Linked DNA regions of Homo sapiens. The protein of the gene in region 2 interacts with the protein of the main gene of each other region in a pairwise test. Each region holds a gene or a part of one and is shown on either strand. Other genes may lie near its edges.

Region 1 (7,045 bases), on a different chromosome or scaffold from region 2:
ACTCCCTCCAGCCAGGGCCAGATAGAAGCTGCTGGAGGGGGTGTTGGCAGATCCAGAGTCTGGTCCATTCCTGCTGGAAATACCAAGCTCACGTTTTGCACCTACGTAGTTTTAGTCTGAAGTCAGCTAGAGTCACAGGCCAGGGAGCTTGACTGGTATGGGTGGAGGAGACAGGAATCTGGGGACCCATCTTTTCTTCTGTTTCATGGTGGTGAGATTAGCACTGAGCCAGTTTTTAGATTGAAGCCCCTCTGTTTTACTGCTTGTAAAATGGGACTGACGCCTCCCAGATCTGGAGAGGACTTTTCGGAGTGTGTCTAGTCCTGTACACCTGCCCTGTGAACCTCAGGGTCCTCACCCGCCTTCTTTGAACTTCTCAAACTAGAACCATGGTCAGTAAAAGCGACGGCTGCAATTGTTCTAAATCCATGAGCGTTATCCCACTTTACCGTCCTTTTTCCAGGGACATTGAACCTCCCTCTTCTCAGCCCTCCCCTGTGTTCCCCTGACCCACAGACAGTGCGCGGAGTCGGGGCTGACTTCGTGTGAGCTGTCCATAAGTGGTAGGGCTGTGGCTGTGACCTCGTAGAGGGCTGGAGAGATGACGCGTCCGTTCTCCACTGTGGCCCATCGAAGCTATGCTGGCAAAGAATGGAAATTCCCGCTAGTCTTCAGGGGCAGAGCGGTGACAATTCGAAGCCGAAGAGGGCTGTTCCTGGCCTTCTTTCCCCATATCCCTCGCTCAGGCTGTTGACCCGGCCATGCCACCCCTGTGTGCTGGACCGTGTGGGGCAGTGTCCCCAGGCCCGCCCTCCGCCCTGTGTCTCTGTGTTGTGGACAGAAGCCTCTTAGAGCGCTCCGTGCGGTAGGACCTCAGCCTCGGCCCTCCTAACCTCTTTCCTTTCTCTCTCTCTTTCCCCTCTCTCCCTCCTCCCCCCTTGCCTCTGCCCTTCAGGTCCGAGCCTCCGTACTGGGTGCAATGAAAGCTCCACGCAGGCCTTACCATGGAAGGCTGTGACTCGCCCGTCGTCTCGGGGAAGGACAATGGGTGCGGTATCCCTCAGCACCAGCAATGGACTGAACTCAACAGCACCCACCTCCCTGACAAACCCAGTAGCATGGAGCAGTCCACAGGCGAGAGCCACGGGCCCTTGGACAGCCTGAGGGCCCCCTTCAATGAGCGCCTCGCGGAGAGCACCGCGTCGGCCGGGCCCCCCTCCGAGCCCGCCAGCAAGGAGGTCACCTGCAACGAATGTTCGGCCTCCTTTGCCAGCCTCCAGACCTACATGGAGCACCACTGCCCCAGCGCGCGCCCCCCGCCACCCCTGAGAGAGGAGAGCGCCAGCGACACCGGTGAGGAGGGGGACGAGGAGAGTGACGTGGAGAACCTGGCCGGGGAGATCGTCTACCAGCCGGACGGCTCCGCGTACATTGTGGAGAGCCTGAGCCAGCTGACCCAGGGCGGGGGCGCCTGTGGGAGTGGCAGTGGCAGTGGGCCTCTCCCCTCGCTTTTCCTGAACTCTCTCCCTGGCGCGGGGGGCAAGCAAGGGGACCCTTCGTGTGCTGCACCCGTGTACCCGCAGATCATCAACACTTTCCACATAGCCTCATCCTTCGGGAAATGGTTTGAGGGCCCAGACCAGGCTTTCCCGAATACCTCAGCCCTGGCGGGGCTCAGCCCCGTCCTGCACAGCTTCCGCGTGTTTGACGTGCGACACAAAAGCAACAAGGATTACCTGAACAGCGACGGTTCTGCCAAAAGCTCCTGCGTATCCAAAGATGTTCCCAACAATGTGGACCTGTCCAAATTCGATGGCTTTGTGCTCTATGGCAAGAGGAAGCCCATCCTGATGTGTTTCTTGTGCAAACTCTCCTTTGGGTACGTCCGTTCGTTTGTGACCCACGCGGTGCATGACCATCGAATGACCCTGAGCGAAGACGAGCGGAAAATTCTTAGCAATAAGAACATCTCCGCTATCATCCAAGGGATCGGCAAAGACAAGGAACCCCTTGTAAGTTTTCTGGAACCAAAAAACAAAAACTTTCAACACCCTTTAGTTTCCACAGCTAACCTCATAGGCCCCGGACACAGTTTTTATGGTAAATTTAGTGGCATTCGAATGGAAGGGGAGGAAGCTCTCCCAGCGGGCTCCGCCGCTGGCCCCGAGCAGCCCCAGGCTGGTCTCTTGACCCCCAGCACCCTGTTGAACCTTGGCGGGCTCACCAGCTCGGTACTGAAGACCCCCATTACCTCAGTCCCCCTGGGGCCTCTGGCTTCCAGTCCTACCAAATCCTCAGAGGGCAAGGACTCTGGGGCGGCAGAAGGAGAGAAGCAGGAAGTGGGCGACGGGGATTGCTTCTCTGAGAAGGTAGAGCCAGCCGAAGAGGAGGCGGAGGAGGAAGAGGAGGAGGAAGAGGCGGAGGAGGAGGAGGAAGAAGAGGAGGAGGAAGAAGAGGAGGAGGAAGACGAGGGTTGCAAAGGACTCTTTCCAAGCGAGTTGGATGAGGAACTGGAGGACAGGCCCCATGAGGAGCCTGGGGCCGCAGCAGGTAGTAGCAGCAAAAAGGACCTTGCTCTCTCAAACCAAAGCATTTCTAACTCCCCCTTAATGCCTAACGTGCTCCAGACCCTGTCGAGGGGCACAGCTTCTACTAGTTCTAATTCTGCTTCTTCCTTTGTTGTCTTTGATGGTGCGAACAGGAGGAATCGTTTAAGCTTTAACAGTGAGGGCGTCAGGGCCAATGTGGCAGAGGGCGGCAGGAGGCTGGACTTCGCTGACGAAAGTGCCAATAAAGACAATGCCACAGCACCAGAACCAAATGAAAGCACAGAGGGTGACGATGGGGGCTTCGTTCCCCATCACCAGCACGCTGGCTCCCTCTGCGAGCTTGGGGTTGGGGAGTGCCCCTCGGGGAGTGGCGTGGAGTGCCCCAAATGCGACACGGTCCTGGGCTCCTCCCGCTCGCTGGGCGGCCACATGACCATGATGCATTCTCGTAACTCGTGTAAGACACTCAAGTGCCCCAAGTGCAACTGGCACTATAAGTACCAGCAGACCCTGGAGGCACACATGAAGGAGAAGCACCCGGAGCCGGGGGGCTCCTGTGTCTACTGCAAAAGCGGGCAGCCCCACCCCCGGCTGGCACGAGGCGAGAGCTACACGTGTGGTTACAAGCCTTTCCGCTGCGAGGTGTGTAACTACTCCACAACTACCAAAGGCAACCTCAGTATTCATATGCAGTCTGACAAGCATCTCAACAACATGCAGAACCTGCAGAATGGAGGGGGGGAGCAGGTCTTCAGCCACACTGCCGGGGCGGCGGCGGCGGCGGTGGCTGCGGCGGCGGCGGCAGCCAATATCAGTAGCTCCTGCGGGGCCCCCTCGCCGACCAAACCAAAAACCAAACCCACCTGGCGGTGCGAGGTGTGTGATTATGAGACCAACGTGGCCAGGAACCTCCGCATTCACATGACCAGTGAGAAGCACATGCATAACATGATGTTACTGCAACAGAACATGACCCAGATCCAACACAACCGCCACCTGGGCCTCGGCAGCCTGCCCTCACCCGCCGAGGCCGAGCTCTACCAATACTACCTGGCCCAGAACATGAACCTGCCCAACCTGAAGATGGACAGTGCTGCCTCGGACGCCCAGTTCATGATGAGCGGATTCCAGCTGGATCCCGCCGGGCCCATGGCCGCCATGACGCCTGCTCTAGGTGAGGATGACTACGTGTTTGTCTGTTTTCATGATAGGAGTTTAACCAGGGAGAATGGTGAATAGGGTGAGATAGTCCTGTGGATTCAGTTGACTCTGGTCTTCTCGAGTGGTTTTTGTGTAAACTGGAGTGTCTTACAATCAAGTATTCTCAAGAATCCCTTGAACTGTGTGTGTACATATGGAAGAGTTTATGCATTCAAAAGAGATATGCTTGTACTCTGGCTACGTGGGGCCAGGATTAAAATGTGAGTGTTTCCTCTAGTTTTCTGTTCCCATTCTCTCTTTCTCTGTCTCTTCTTTCAATTTGAAAAATCACTATAATCACCTAAAACTTTGGGGTTTCATCGAATATTTACTGAAACTTACAGGAAACTGTAGCTGAGGCAATCATTTCAATAAGAGGACTAGGGACAGTTACCTCAATGATTTAAGTAGAGACAATCATCTTAATAATAGGAATTCGGAACCACAGTGTACGTTATTCAGATAACTAAAGGCTGATTCTGTGCCGAGCTAGGGAACCATCCAGATAGACTTCTCAAAGTTCTCTGTATATTTATGAGGACCTCAATGAAAGAGATGTTTTTTTTTTTGCTTATTTTTGATGAGTACTTGGTGATTAGAATAGTTGGAAATTAATTGGGAATTAAATTCCCCAGTGGCACTGTTGTGAGGGGTGTGAGAGATGAAAAATGAGTAAGTTGTAAAAATTGTCCATCAAGGAAAGTTAACTTTTAATAGCAGTTAGATCCTGGTTAGCGGAGCCTTCGCTGCCAGGAAGAATGACCTCTGCTTTAGAGAAGCTGATTTGGCTCTGTTCAGGCTCCCAGTCTTACCAATTGGCTTACAATATCTAGAATAGGACCAAGAGTGTAGGATTTGGGTGCTAAAAACTTTGAGTTTTTACGTAGAACGAACCACAGCCACTTTGAGGATAGCTGCTGCTGCCAAAACAATCTACAGATGGGTTTCATGAGAACCTTCTGATAGTTGGGCCACTCGTGCCTCCACCCGGTATGCTTCAAACAGGATCCTGCCTGCGTCCCATCCCGTGACGCTGCTAATGGACTTCGTGGGACCAGTGACAATGGCCTGAATTAAGCAATATGCCATTATTGACATGGGAATAGGTTGTTCTTGGCAACAGAGTGTCAGTGAGGACTTTTTTTCCAGGATGGCTTAGATGACTGCAGGGCCAGGCCTCAGCAGTTGGCAAGTGTTTATTTGTGTGGTGTTTGAGTGCTAATTGTTGCCGATGAGTTATATTTCAAAGCATTCCATTGGTTTTTCTTGCTATGTATTCAGTTTTTAATCCTTAGTACTTTAATCTCATTTTCCATTTTGAAATATTTGCCTGTTGATCCTTTATTACCAAATGATTTGAGGGTATTTGAAACCAACTGGCTAATTGTGGATGCACAAGCACTGGTCGTCTTATTTGTCACCAGGGTGAACCATGCACACCAGGAGATGGGAGTGAGTACTCTAAGGTTTTCTTTAAGCCAGTAGGAATTAGAAGGAGTCATAGAATCTCGGGAGGTAGATCTTGGAGCAAATCAAACATAACGGAGGTGGAATGAAGACAGAACGTGGGAACGTGGGTAGGTTCATGTTGGGTCAAAGTGAGGGTTTTTTTTTTTTTTTTTTTGAGACAGAGTCTCGCTCTGTCACCCAGGCTGGAGTGAGTGGTGCCGTCTCGGCTCACTGCAACATCCACCTCCTGTGTTCAAGCGATTCTCCTGCCAGAGCCTCCCAAGTAGCTGGGATTACAGGCACCCGCCACCATGCCTGGCTAATTTTGTGTTTTTAGTAGAGATGGGGCTTCACCATCTTGGCCAGGCTGGTCTCAAACCCTTGACCTCAGGTGATCTGCCCGCCTTGGCCTCCCAAAGTGCTGGGATTACAGGCATGAGCCACTGTGCCCAGCCTAAAGTGAGGCTTTTTAATTACCTTAAGAACAGGTAACTAAGGCTTGTATTGAGAAGTAGAGAAATATTTCGCTTTCACACCAAGTGTCTGTGAGTCTTTGGGGCATCATGCACTGTCCTGGGCATTGCGGCAGATTCAGAAGGAGCAGAAGAATGAAGCCCTGTGTTGTAGACACACATGGAAGGGCCACACCATATTTCTTAGACTGGAGCTCTTCCTCCCAAAGGATTTATCCAGCTCAGTCACAAAGGGCTCTTGAATTTCCAGTGTCACTACTTGTCGGCCACGGGGAGTCCCTGGAAACCTGTGCCTTCCTTGGGCCGCGAAAACTGCTGAGAAGGTGTGAGAGCCACAAATCCTTTATGCCAGAAGCTCGAGTGGGTGTGGGGGCCATAGGAAGTGTCCAAAAGACTTGGAATTTGAGTTGTATGACCTCAGTAGGAGAAACCAACTTATGCAAATAAAAACAGCCATAACTTTCAGTTCTAGCTGTGGCTGTACTGGTTTTTTTTCCCCATGGTCCATTTATAAGATGGCTGTAGGTGTTATTAGATGTGACTGAGTTCTGCAGGGAGAAAAATGTTTTTGTGAAATACACTCCTCTTTACAAGGTGATTGTTTTCATACTTCCCTTGGCAGAGCCCTCTTTAGTATCATCAAACAGACACTGATTGTGGGGTTGCTTCTTTTCAGAAGCCTTTGAGGAAAGGCTTGGGGCTCCTTCGCCTAGTACAGTCGGATCTGCTGCTCTTTGTAGACAGCACATTAGATTTGAGGCCTTGTGAACATCCTCCCAAACCTTCCTTTCGACTCTGAAGTTTAGCATAGCACCAAGAAAGGGGTTGCTTGTCGGGGTGGCTGTGTGTTTCCCAAGTAGCCAGCCAGCCCCTGGACACCTGCACAAGGTTTAGCAGCTCCCTTCGTCTCCCTTTCATTCCAGAGTGTGCCTTTGAATCCATGCACCTTCCTGAGGATGTGCTGATGGGTGGGCTCACGTGTCAAGGTGTCAGTTCCAGTGTTAGAGTTAGGTGCATACCCAGAGATGGGGACCTGCTCCAAGACCACGTATCCAGTGTGGCTCAAGACTAAGGACCTGCCAAGTTCTTTTTTTCATTTCTTTTTTTTGAGATGGAGTTTCACTCTTGTCGCCCAGGCTGGAGTGCAATAGCGCAGTCTCGGCTCACTGCAGCCCCTGCCTCCCGGGTTCAAGCAATTCTTCTGCCTCTGCCTTCCGAGTAGCTGGGATTACAGGCATGCGCCACCATGCCTAGCTAATTTTTGTGTGTTCAGTAGAGACAGGATTTCACCACATTGGCCAGGCTGGTCTTGAACTCCTGACCTCAGGTGATCTGCCCACCTTGGCCTCCCAAAGTGCTGGGATGACAGGTGTG
Region 2 (7,045 bases):
GACACATGAATAAACAGAAAGACTAGTGGAAGAGAAGAGAAATCTAGAAATAGACTTAAGTCCATAAGGAAAATCAGTATATGATGAAGGTGTTATCTGAAGTCACTGGAGCATAGATGGGCTCTCTAATTAAATGGTGCTGGACAACTGGGTGGCCATTTGGAAAAAAGGTAAGATTAGATCCATTCCTCATGCCATCCACACAAATAAACTCCAAATTTAAAGAAGAATGACAATTGAAGAAAGTGTAAGAGAATTCCTCTATAAACTCAGTATAGAGAGAGCACCGCAAACATAAAGGACTGATCAATTGTACTACGTAAAAAATTAAAAATATTTGCATAGTAAAAACTGATAATTCATTTAAAAAATATGTATGTCTAAGAGGCTTACTATGTCTTTTACCCAAAAAGTATCAGGTTAGATCTACCACAAAAGTGATGTCATCCTATCTAAACAAGCCACTTCTAAAGTTTCATTTAAAAGAACCACCACAAGGGAGAGAAATTGACCTTGGAGAGGGGAGGGAGAGCCTAGTCTCGTGTTAGTACTGGTTCCAGCTTTACCTTCTTCAGTTTCTTGCGGGCCCCACTGTGGTTCCCCTGCGCCAGGTCTGCTCCTCCCAGGAGCCGGTATGTCTCTGCCACCTCGGGACTGAAATCGCCAAATGCTTCCACTTTGGCTTCCAGGGACTCTCTCAGGATCGAGGTTGCTCTCTGTGAAAGGAACAAAAAGCTATCTGGTTAACAAGCTCAAAGGCTGATTAGGATCATTACGCAACTTGTAACATTTTCACATGGGTGTGGTAGTCTCACGAGCTGAGCCTGTTCTCCTCTTGTATTAGTCCATTCTCATGCTGCTATGAAGAGATACCTGAGACTGGGTAATTTATAAAGCCAAGAAGTTTAATTGACTCACAGTTCCACATGGGTGGGGAGGCCTCAGAAAACTTACAATCATGGCAGAGGGCACCTCTTTCATAGGGCAGCAGGAGAGATAAGTGCTGAGCAAAGGGGGCAAAGCCCCTTATAAAACCATCAGATCTTGTGAGAATTCAGTCACTATCGCAAGAACGGCATGGGGGTAACCGCACCCATGGTTCAATCACCTCCCACAGGGTCCCTACCATGACACATGGGTATTATAGGAACTATAATTCAAGACGAGATTTGGGTGGGGACACAGCCAAATCATATCACCTCTGGTTGAACAAGAGTCAGGAAACAACACGAATGTGAGGAAAGGTGTAAACTATGAAGAGAGAGGACACCTGGCAAAATAAACCCACTCAGCCATTACAGGAATCCATTTCAGTTGAGTAGTAAGAACAAAAGCTGACATGGATCAGTCCTCACATGTCACTAATTGTGCTGAACACACACAATTGTGTGGGTCTCATTTAATTTTTGCTGTCTTCTTTAGATGGGTAAAATTTTAATCCTCATTAGGCAGAGGAGGAAACAGGCACGGCAGTTAAGAAACTTGCTCAGAGTCAGAGGGCTCAGCTGTGGTGGTGCTAGGATCTGAATCCAGCCAGTGATCTTCATACCTTTTTTTTTTTTTTTTTTTAAATCCGTCTCACCGTCTCAGCAGATCTTCCATTTTACAACAGCAGGTGGAAATCTGGAGGTTTTTTTTTTTTTTTTTTTAGACAGAGTCTCTCTTTGTCTACCAGCCTGGAGTGCAGTGGCATGATCTCAGCTCTCTGCAACCTCTGCCTCCCAGGTTCAAGCGATTCTCCTGCCTCATCCTCCCAAGTAGCTGGGATTGCAGGCGCCCACCACCATACCCAGCTAATTTTTGTATTTTTAGTAGAGACAGGGTTTCACCATGTTGGCCAGACTGGTCTTGAACTCCTGACCTCAAGTGATCCACCCACCTTGGCATCCCAAAGTGCTGGGATTACAGGCGCGAGCCACAATGCCCAGTCTAATTTTCATACATTTTAGTCCCATGCTTTTCTCCCTCTGTCCACAATGCTATTCTTACAGAAGTGAAAATATAGCATTCCTGGGCAAATTATCTATGTATAGAACATCCTGAACACACTCCAGGCTTGGCTATTCTCATAGGAAATCGTTTAGGAAACTGAAAGTAAACATTCCAACATGACATGACATTTTGTTTGGTTTATCCAATTTATTTATACTAACATGGAATAAAAATTATGAATTGGTCAGGACATAGTATTTCCTGATATTAGCTTCTTCAGACACCAAAATATGCAGGGGGAAACCCTGTTAAAGTATGTCAATCCTCCATACTTTCTCCAGAAATTCTTCCACGATCTTCCACATGAAGGCACGACATCAGCTGCAGAGCATGGATGCTGAATTTAACTGGCAAATACAGCAGGGACCATGGGAGCTTCCTCATGACACAGCCCCAAAGGGGTCCCAAAAGTGCTCCACAAACAGAAGGACAAGGAGGGCGTTTAATCCTTTTGTTGGCAATAATACAAGTTAGGGGATAGGGCCGGGGTAGGGGAACCACATTACAGGTGCTGATGAGGCAGAAATAAATTTCTCAGGTGAAAGAGGAATCTCTGTAGAGGCAGAGTGATTGTGTAACTCAGCAGTGAGGCCCCACTGAGGTACATGAGGGACTAGAATTTAAATCTAGACTTGCCTGAGGGTAAAGCCCATCACATCTCCCAAGTTCTGAGAGCAAGGACTTGGACTGCTGAGAGTGCTGGGTTTGGTGATATTTCTGTGGGAAAATATCACTGTCAGACTTAGAGGAGCCAGTGATGGGGAGAAGACCCGGGGAGACTCCCTTTCCCAGATAAAGCTTTGGATGCCGCCTACAGCCTGACTGCGGAAACGGGGAGATGTGAAGGAAGTTAAATGGCACGGGTTTCTAGGAAACTGAGATAGTATCAACCTCTGCTAGGAAAAGCTTAAGAGAGAGGAGTGAAGAGTAAAGAGGACTTAGGTGGGATGAGAAGAGGGTATGGGCCACTGGGAGCACAGGAGGAACACATGGCCTGTTGAGGGCCAGTGAGTGGCCAGGCTGAGGAAGTCACAGAAGATTCTTGAGCAAAAGAGTGGCACAACTAGAAGACAAACCCTCACGGAGTAGCTTAACCTGTGGCAGAGTGACCTTCACTTACATTTTACCTTAAAAGGCATTTCATCCCTCAAATATCATGTTCCACAGTGCCCATGGCCATGTGCTGTGGGAACACCTGGGATGGCCTGAGCACAGCCCCATTCTTGGCTCCGGGACTGTCCCTGGGCCCGGCCCTTGTTGGCCAACACCTGCTAGAACCCACAGTGAGAGGTTTGCAACCAAATGGTGAGAACAGCATGAGACTGCCATGTTTGGCTGGGCAGGTGGTGCCACACACAAGGGTGCCTGGCAGGAGCATGGGGAGGGCTGAAATCCAGCCTATGGTCCTCTCCAACATGGGCGGTATCTACCTGAGGAAGGGGCAGCTTTTTCTATTATGATAAGGGCATTGGATGGGCTGGCAGTGGCCCTAGAATGAAAAGAGCCAGTTTGCTAAAATCTTCGAGGGCAGCTTAGGAGAGTGAGGTGCATCTTTTGATCAACACTGATCTGGGTGACTTGGGCAAGGGCAGTGAGGCATAGCATCAGTGACACTGAGCATTGGCTGACTCAGCAAGACACTATGGTGGGAAGCCAGGCAGTACAGGGGAACTGATGCATGGCCCACAGGAGTCAGAACAGTCAGCTGGCCTGTGGCCAAACATGCATCCACCTCTCTGCTCATCACTCCTCACCACAGGCAAGAGGGTCTCTGCTTTCACAGGTTCGGTCTAGTTGCAAGATAGATGTTAAATATCCACATGAATATATACTTACAAATATTTGATGACATCAAATGGATTCTCTAAGGAAGAATAATGGGGAGTATCTAATGAAGCCTGGGGAGAGGAATCAGAGAAGCTGGTAAGAAATGAAGAATGGGTTAGCATTGGCCTGGAGATGAATGAGGAAGGGCCTTCCAGGAGGAGGAAACAGAAGCTGGCACTGCCCGGAAGTGGGAATTAGAAAAGGCCAGTGTGGCAGGAACATGGATCAGGGAGAGGAGGCAAAAATGAGCCTGGAAATGTCAGTGGAGTCCAGGTCGTGGACGGTACTGTGGGCCATGTCAGGATTCTGGTTTATCCTGAGGGCATCGGGGAGCCAGTGGACTGGCTTTTACAAGTGAGTGTTCAGTGGTCAGATCTGCTTTTTGGAAACATCACCATGGCTTCCTTATTCTGAGTGGATTAGAAGAGGGCAAGCATGGAAAAAGCAGCTGAGAGATAGGAACTTGTTAGAGCGGTCCAGGCAAGAGATGATGAGTGGCAGGACTAAAGATGGAAAACAATGGATGCATTCAAGATCTATTTTGGAGGAAAAAATGGCTGAGGAACTAGATGGAGTGGGGCATGAGGGGGCAAACCTACCCCATTATTCTGACCTGAGCACTCCCCTTGTCTTCTAGAGATGTGAGGGGGGAATGGGGAGGGAGTCTGAGGCCCCTGGAAGGCCCCTCTCTCTCCCTGGGGTTGGGTGACTGAGAAACATCCTGAAACTCCAATTTGTCCTGGTGATTGTGGCCCTACTTTGGCCTGAGAAACATAGGTATATCGGCATAAAAGCCCGTGTTCCCTAGCTGACAGAAGGCGGGGGTGGAGGGGGGATTAAGGATGAGAAAAGAGCTGTGGGGGAGGAGGTCTACAGACGGTAAGGGAAATAAAGTTTTTCATTTCCAAGATTTGCCATGATAGGTTAGAGTTGAAAAAAATACATAGTCAGCCCTCCATATCCATAGATCAAAAATTATATGGGAAAAAACAATAAAAATAACAATACAACAATAAAAACAATACAAATAAAAAATACAGTGTAACAACTACTACCATAGCATTTACATTGTATTAGGTATTATAAGCAATCTAGAGATGATATAAAGTATTCAGGAGGCTTTGTCTAGGTTATATACAAATGTGACACCATTTTGTACAAGGGCTTGAGCATCCTTGGAGTTTGATATCCTTGGGGGCTCTGGAACCAATCCCCCACAGATACTGAGGAACAACTATATATATATGTGTGTGAGTGTGTATATATGTATGTATGTATGGTTTTCTAGGAAATTGAGATGGCGTTAACCTCTGATAAGAAAAGCTTAACAGAGGCCGGGCGCAGTGGCTCACGCCTGTAATCCCAGCACTTTGGGAGGCTGAGGCGGGCGGATCACGGGGTCAGGAGTTCAAGATCAGCCTAGCCAAATGGTGAAACCCCAACTCTACTAAAAATACAAAAAAATTAGCTGGGCATGGTGGCGGGGGCCTGTAATCCCAGCTACTCGGGGGGCTGAGGCAGAAAATTGCTTGAACCCAGGAGGCGGAGGTTGCAGTGAGCTGAGATTGCACCACTGCACTCCAGCTTGGGTGACAGAGCAAGACTCTGTCTCAAAAAAAAAAAAAAAAAAACTTAACGGAGAGGAGTGAAAAGTAAACAGGACTTAGGTGCGCTGAGAAGAGGGTGTGGGCATACATGCACACATACATATATACATATATATGCACACACATATATATAATTGTTCCTATCTGTGGGCGATTGTATATATATATATGTATTAATATGTACACACACACACATATATAAAAACATAAAGCAATGGTATGTTAGGCTTTGCAGGGAATGCATTCCCAAGGGTTTAATTCCCAATGAATATAAGGTCTGGGTCTTGCTCTATTTTCATAAGCCACGTAAATCACGCTTGTACGAATCAATACTAAACAACTGAGCTGTAACTTCTGCACCGTATAGTTTTCCTTAGACATGCAAACTCCATTCATTACCCAAACTGAGGAGAGAGGGATTAGACACACTAACTGCCACACTATTCCAGCCAGATCTGCAGGACTTCAATAAGCAGGGCCTGTCCACTATTTCTTTAGGATCTTTTGTAGGTGGGCATGACAATCTATATTCTCATAAAGTCTCCCAGCTTCTAAGAGCAAGTATCTCTGGAAGCTGCCCCAAAGGAGCCCTAGCCTTATTTATGTGTCCCTCTAGAGACTGGCACATGCTTTGCACACAGTAGATGCTTAATGGATGCTTGCAGAGTAAAGGAGTTGCCCTTTGGATATCAACTGTGAATAACTAGACAATTGTGATCCAAACTCACTTACCTCTTTTTGTCCAGTCATTTGTAGAAAATGGCAAAATTCATCTTGAATTGAAAGAAATTTGGTTCTTCCCATCCCTTCAGAATCCTTAAGATGAGCCATGCTCTCTTGAAAATACTGCTCAGCTACATCTGAAGAAAAGCATTTATCATAACTTTGAAAACTGCTCACAGATTTGAAATGGAAACAGAATAAATATACTGTTAGCAGTGTTGAGCTATTTGGAAAGAGGTATTGGGACAAGAAAAAACAGTTAAGACTGTCCTTTGCCCATTAATCTGCCTGTTTCATTAGAAAGGATTTAGGTCTTGAAGGATACCGTAATTTACTTTCTTTAATTTTCATACATCTAGCTTTCCCGGTGATACATAAAGAAAAGTTACTGCAAAAGAAGAAACTATGCCCCACATCTGAACACACTGGTAAGTTTTCAGGTTGATCAACCACTAATTCTTCCTATAACTTTAGTTATAGGGTAACTATGACTTTACTGAGGGTAGGACTCTGAAAGTTCACTTATTTTGATGGATTTGGAGTATAATCTTGGTACATATTTCTAAAACATGAAAAATCTGGAAAATATTGCTGACATGCCGCTGAGGGAAGAAATCATTCAAAACCCCAATCATTCCAAATACTTCAACATACTGGTTATAATATAACACAAATATTTTTAAATGCATGCCAATCTTGAATGCAAGAAAAAGAAAACCTCAGGTATGGAAAATGACGAGAGAACTAAAAGCCAGAGAAGTGAGCGGGAGCTGAGGTTGAATGGCCCGTAAGCATATTAGAAAAAAGGTCCATCTACTAGTACTGGGGTTTTCTAAGCCTGAGCAGGACTAGGGATGAAGCCTGAGGCTCATTTGTGGTGGAAAGCTGAATAGGAC
Region 3 (4,366 bases), on a different chromosome or scaffold from region 2:
CACAGAAAAGTACCAAACAAAATTTTAAGTGGCATCCAAGATTATTCATGAATCTCTTAATTATTACTTCCAAATAGTGACATATCTGTTAAGTCATCTTATGCTACTTAAAATTATAATTTAGAAAAGGCATCTTTGTGAGTGAAACTGGCCTTTAGCTTCTGTTTAAAGAAAAACATAAAGCTGTGCTGCCAAAGATGAAAAACTCATGTGAAATTAATAAAATACAATCTCAATTTTTCAGAAAGCAAAGATGATTTGTTCTTTCAACAGGCACATAAAATATATTATCTACCAAACTTATATAAAAAATGATCCCAGTTATGAGGCAAAAGAATCTATGTGCACAAGAGACTGAAAGGAAGCATGCCAAAATGTTTACTGTGGATATTCTATGGCTTATAGAGTTATAAGGGTGATTTTTCTTTTCTTCTTGATTCCTTTCAGGATATTCCAAGTTTTCTATAAAGAATATGCTTTACTTTTACAACTAGGGAAAGAAAGACAGAAAAATATATATAACATTTAAAGGGCAAAACAATATAGCTGTTTATTTTACAGGCTAAAATATCAAGATGAAAAGCTCTGATCCCAAATCATCCATTTTACCTATATTCTGTCACTTTTACTAAAAGCAGAGTTCTACTCATCCCAGTGAAAAAAACAATGAATTAAAAGTAATTTCTGGCGTTAACCCAAGTACCGAGTTAAGACTCCTTAAGAATATAGAATTATGTAATCAACTTAGATAATTCAAAGCCCAATGATATAACTAAGTTCTTTGACGATTGAGCACACATTGTTTCCTTACTTATCTTTAAACATTCCTAGTCCAATTACTCCCTAGCATAATACCATTTATAAATGAGGATGAGTTTACAATGGTTTCTGTAACCAAAAAGTATTTCTAATATCTGTCCTCTGCCACATATTTTTAAATTATCTTTTCCATTAGCAGAAATGGGCAACATAAGCAATAAATCATGTTAAGTCTGTTGCTACAAATTTACTTTGCCAAAATTTTTGTTCAGAGGGCAGATATCTGCATTATTTAAGGACATTTAGTCATTTGTAGCTAACACCTGAAGTAAACTACCCTCAATCAATTTTTATATTTCAGTCTAGTCACTGTAGACAAACTATTTAAATCTTTTATAATTTACTTTGTGTAGTTATTTGGCTTAAAAAAAAAAAAAGAGGGCTCACATTCTATTTAAATTAAGACAATATATTTTATAAAGCCCAAATTATAGTACACTAAGAGCCAGAGGGGTCTAGGGAATTGATCTCAGTGGGTATACAGCAAAGACAAAATTTGGAGGCAGACGCTAAAGGAAGTTGAGATAAATAAAATTCAAATCAGTGTATTAACAGAACTACACAAATGTTTACAACACAGTAACTACACTTTTCAATTAGTTCATTGTGAAAACTGAGCAAAATATTTTCAACAATTTTGGGTCAACAAAAAGTATGGAATATTTTAAGACAATAAAGAGTGACTGGTGTTGAGAGTACTGAGGCTACACAGAGGTACTGAAATTCAAATCTGAAAAATACTGTGCTGGCCACACAACACTACAAATTTCTAATGGAAGAATTCCCTTTTTGATCCGCAGCTTAGGTGGTAAGTAAATAAAAAAACAGCTCAGAAAAACAGCAAAAATATTAACATTTAGGAGTCTCAAAACTTTGTATTGGCTGTGAGTCTGGGGGAAAAAAACATAAATGTCATACTACCAATTAAACTTTCAAGAGTCATCAGATTATTTAGCTTTAAAATTTTACTAAATCAGACCTTAAACTACACATTCAAAATGCTGAACTAGATAATCACATATTAAAAAGGTAATGACTCATTATCAGTGAATTACCCAGTCTGTTCTATCAAAGTAGTAGTTAAGGTCACCAAATAATGTTGGTGCCTTTGGTTCTGGAATTATAACTAGCTGTACTGTAGGAGCATCAGCGCCTAAGTTTTAAGCCAGTGGGAATACTCTGCTGCCTGGCTTCACAGGCACTGAATACACTTAAAATGGTAAGAAACTGAATGGATTTAATAAGTTTTGAATAATACAATAACCAACTGTATATTTATTATGAAGTAAAAGCCAATCTCCTACCCAATCCCTCTTCTATCAGCTGCACATTTCCAAGTAAGTGAGATAAAATGACTCAATCTAAACCACGTGAAGGAATGTATTAACATAATCCAACAAAAATGAAATAAAACAATCCAGAGTTTTGAGTGTTTTTTCACACTTGTAATAAACTGAAAAAATATTTCAATTAAAACAACCATATGCCACAAAAAGCCACTCCCATCATCCACAATACTAAAGTCCTTATACAACACTAGATAAATTTTTATATAAAACAGTAGAAACTAGCATACCATTAATTAGAAACCTCAAAATATTCAGAAAACAGTATCAAGTACTCAAGAGAAAGCTCAAGAAGCCAAAACCTCAAGAATCCATACATCCTGGTTGTTACCCTAAATTGTAATTAACTACCCACACATTTAATCATAATCAACTTTTTCAAAGATATACAAATCAATGCATCTATTTAAAAGGACTACTCTTTATAGTTCAGAACTTTACATTAACTTTTATATTCTACTCAGCAGGGTGTCTGTCTGTACTCCAAATTAGCTCTCATGTTCCAGGAAATAAATACAAACTCATATGCCTTGTGATCACTGATGGCCTGCTTATGTAATTCTAGTCCACTAAATGTTAATTCCATAGAATATGCTCTTGATTATGTAAAAACTCTAATTTCTTGATGAAATACTGTAATTCTCCAAAGGTTACAATTTTGTAAAGATATGCAATAACTGAGTATCACTCCCATGAAAGACAAAAAAAGTATAATTTTGTTCCAAGATTAACTTAGTCTCATGTATCTCTATTAAGTCTTTCAAGGATTCCAGAGAATCTTTTCATATCTCCATTTCTGGAAAGTGAAATCAGTATAGAAGTAATTTGGGAACTTGAAAATGGCATTCATTTTTTTCAGCAGATGCCAAATTTTTGACCGACATGGTTCTCACAATTACTTTGTTACCAACAGTCCAGTCAGTTAACAGGTTGTAGGAAAAGATTCGTTTTTGCAGACACTGCTAAGCTGTTCAAAGAGAAGAGAGAGAGATTAATTTAGTGATTATAAAATGCACAAATATTTAAAATATTTTGAACACTTCTTGTTGGATTATATCAGAGGTGTGACTACATTTTAACAAAAGTGGACTTTTTAAGATAAGTCTGGTCAAAGAAGTGCAGAAACAGTAAGTCAATATGATAGAAATAGTAGGTCAAAATATGATGTGTTAGTTCAATTAATGTATGAACTCCTGCCACCATCAAAAGACAAATATTAAAAAGCTACATCTTTAGTCTAGTTCTGTATTTTACCAGAGGCACATTTAGAAGAAAAACAAAAGGGTCACCCAAATACTAAATTGTTTTCAACCATTACAGTAAATAGAGCCAAACCTAGAAATTTCAAAAACAATCCATTTTATATTCCAGAAATCTCCTTTATCCATGTGCTAATCATCCAGAACACAATTTTCTAAAAATAGTAAGACAACAGTTTCACATTAATCATAACTTTTTTAATTAACAAGTAGTGAATCGGACACTTTAAGATATTGTTTACTACATACTGAAATAAACAGATCTGTTTAAATTCAGAAACCCAAACATTTACAGTAAAATGTGCTTACACATAAATATGACCAAATTTATTTAAAGCCCCTATTAGATAGATCCTAAGTACATGCAATTACCATGTAAAAACAAGACCATGAAGTTGATGTAAAAAATGACAAAATCACTAAGTCACCAAAACTAGAAAAAAAAAAATGAAATGGAAACTGAGAAAAGACAGTTAATAAAACATAAGGAACCTAACAAAGCAGCTTTAAAAATAGGCCATACTAATCCTTCCATTTTCAAAAGTTCTTATCAAGTAATTCCAAAAACTGCCATTTATAAAATGACATTCTAAAAATCTACACTTGGAATTTCAAAGTATCTCAATTCAGAAAGCTTTGACTACTGTTTCTCCCCAGCCCACAATTTCAAATAATGCAGGAAAAGTATTGACGTAAGGAAGAAAATACTCCAACAGAATGTTATAGTTTTTAGAAAAATGAACTTACTGCTTTCCAGAACCTTTTAAGACCCACAGTCAGCATTAACAATCATTTTTCCTATTTTCATCCATTATTTTCCAATATCATGTTAGAGATGAATAAATTCTTTGAGCCCATAACTAAAAGATCAACAAACCTGGTTTTATTATGACACCATATTTTTGTCATTGGTACTGCACAAAATTATATACAAAGAAATAT

Evidence for each region.
Region 1: the proteins of TTC23 (region 2) and ZFHX3 interact in binary tests that used the Homo sapiens proteins (3 or more experiments, as listed by UniProt).
Region 3: the proteins of TTC23 (region 2) and CREBZF interact in binary tests that used the Homo sapiens proteins (3 or more experiments, as listed by UniProt).

The regions. Positions count from the first base shown.
Region 1 is NC_000016.10:72,954,105-72,961,149, reverse strand, and holds part of ZFHX3 (zinc finger homeobox protein 3), read left to right. Parts: exon of another isoform or gene 1-955; 5' UTR 956-1,004; coding exon 1,005-3,723; intron 3,724-3,747; exon of another isoform or gene 3,748-3,903; coding exon of another isoform or gene 3,904-3,970; intron 3,971-7,045.
Region 2 is NC_000015.10:99,155,582-99,162,626, forward strand, and holds part of TTC23 (tetratricopeptide repeat protein 23), read right to left. Parts: intron 6,287-7,045; coding exon 6,159-6,286; intron 717-6,158; coding exon 567-716; intron 1-566. UniProt on the Homo sapiens protein: Participates positively in the ciliary Hedgehog (Hh) signaling.
Region 3 is NC_000011.10:85,657,466-85,661,831, forward strand, and holds the end of CREBZF (CREB/ATF bZIP transcription factor), read right to left. Parts: 3' UTR 525-4,366; downstream 1-524.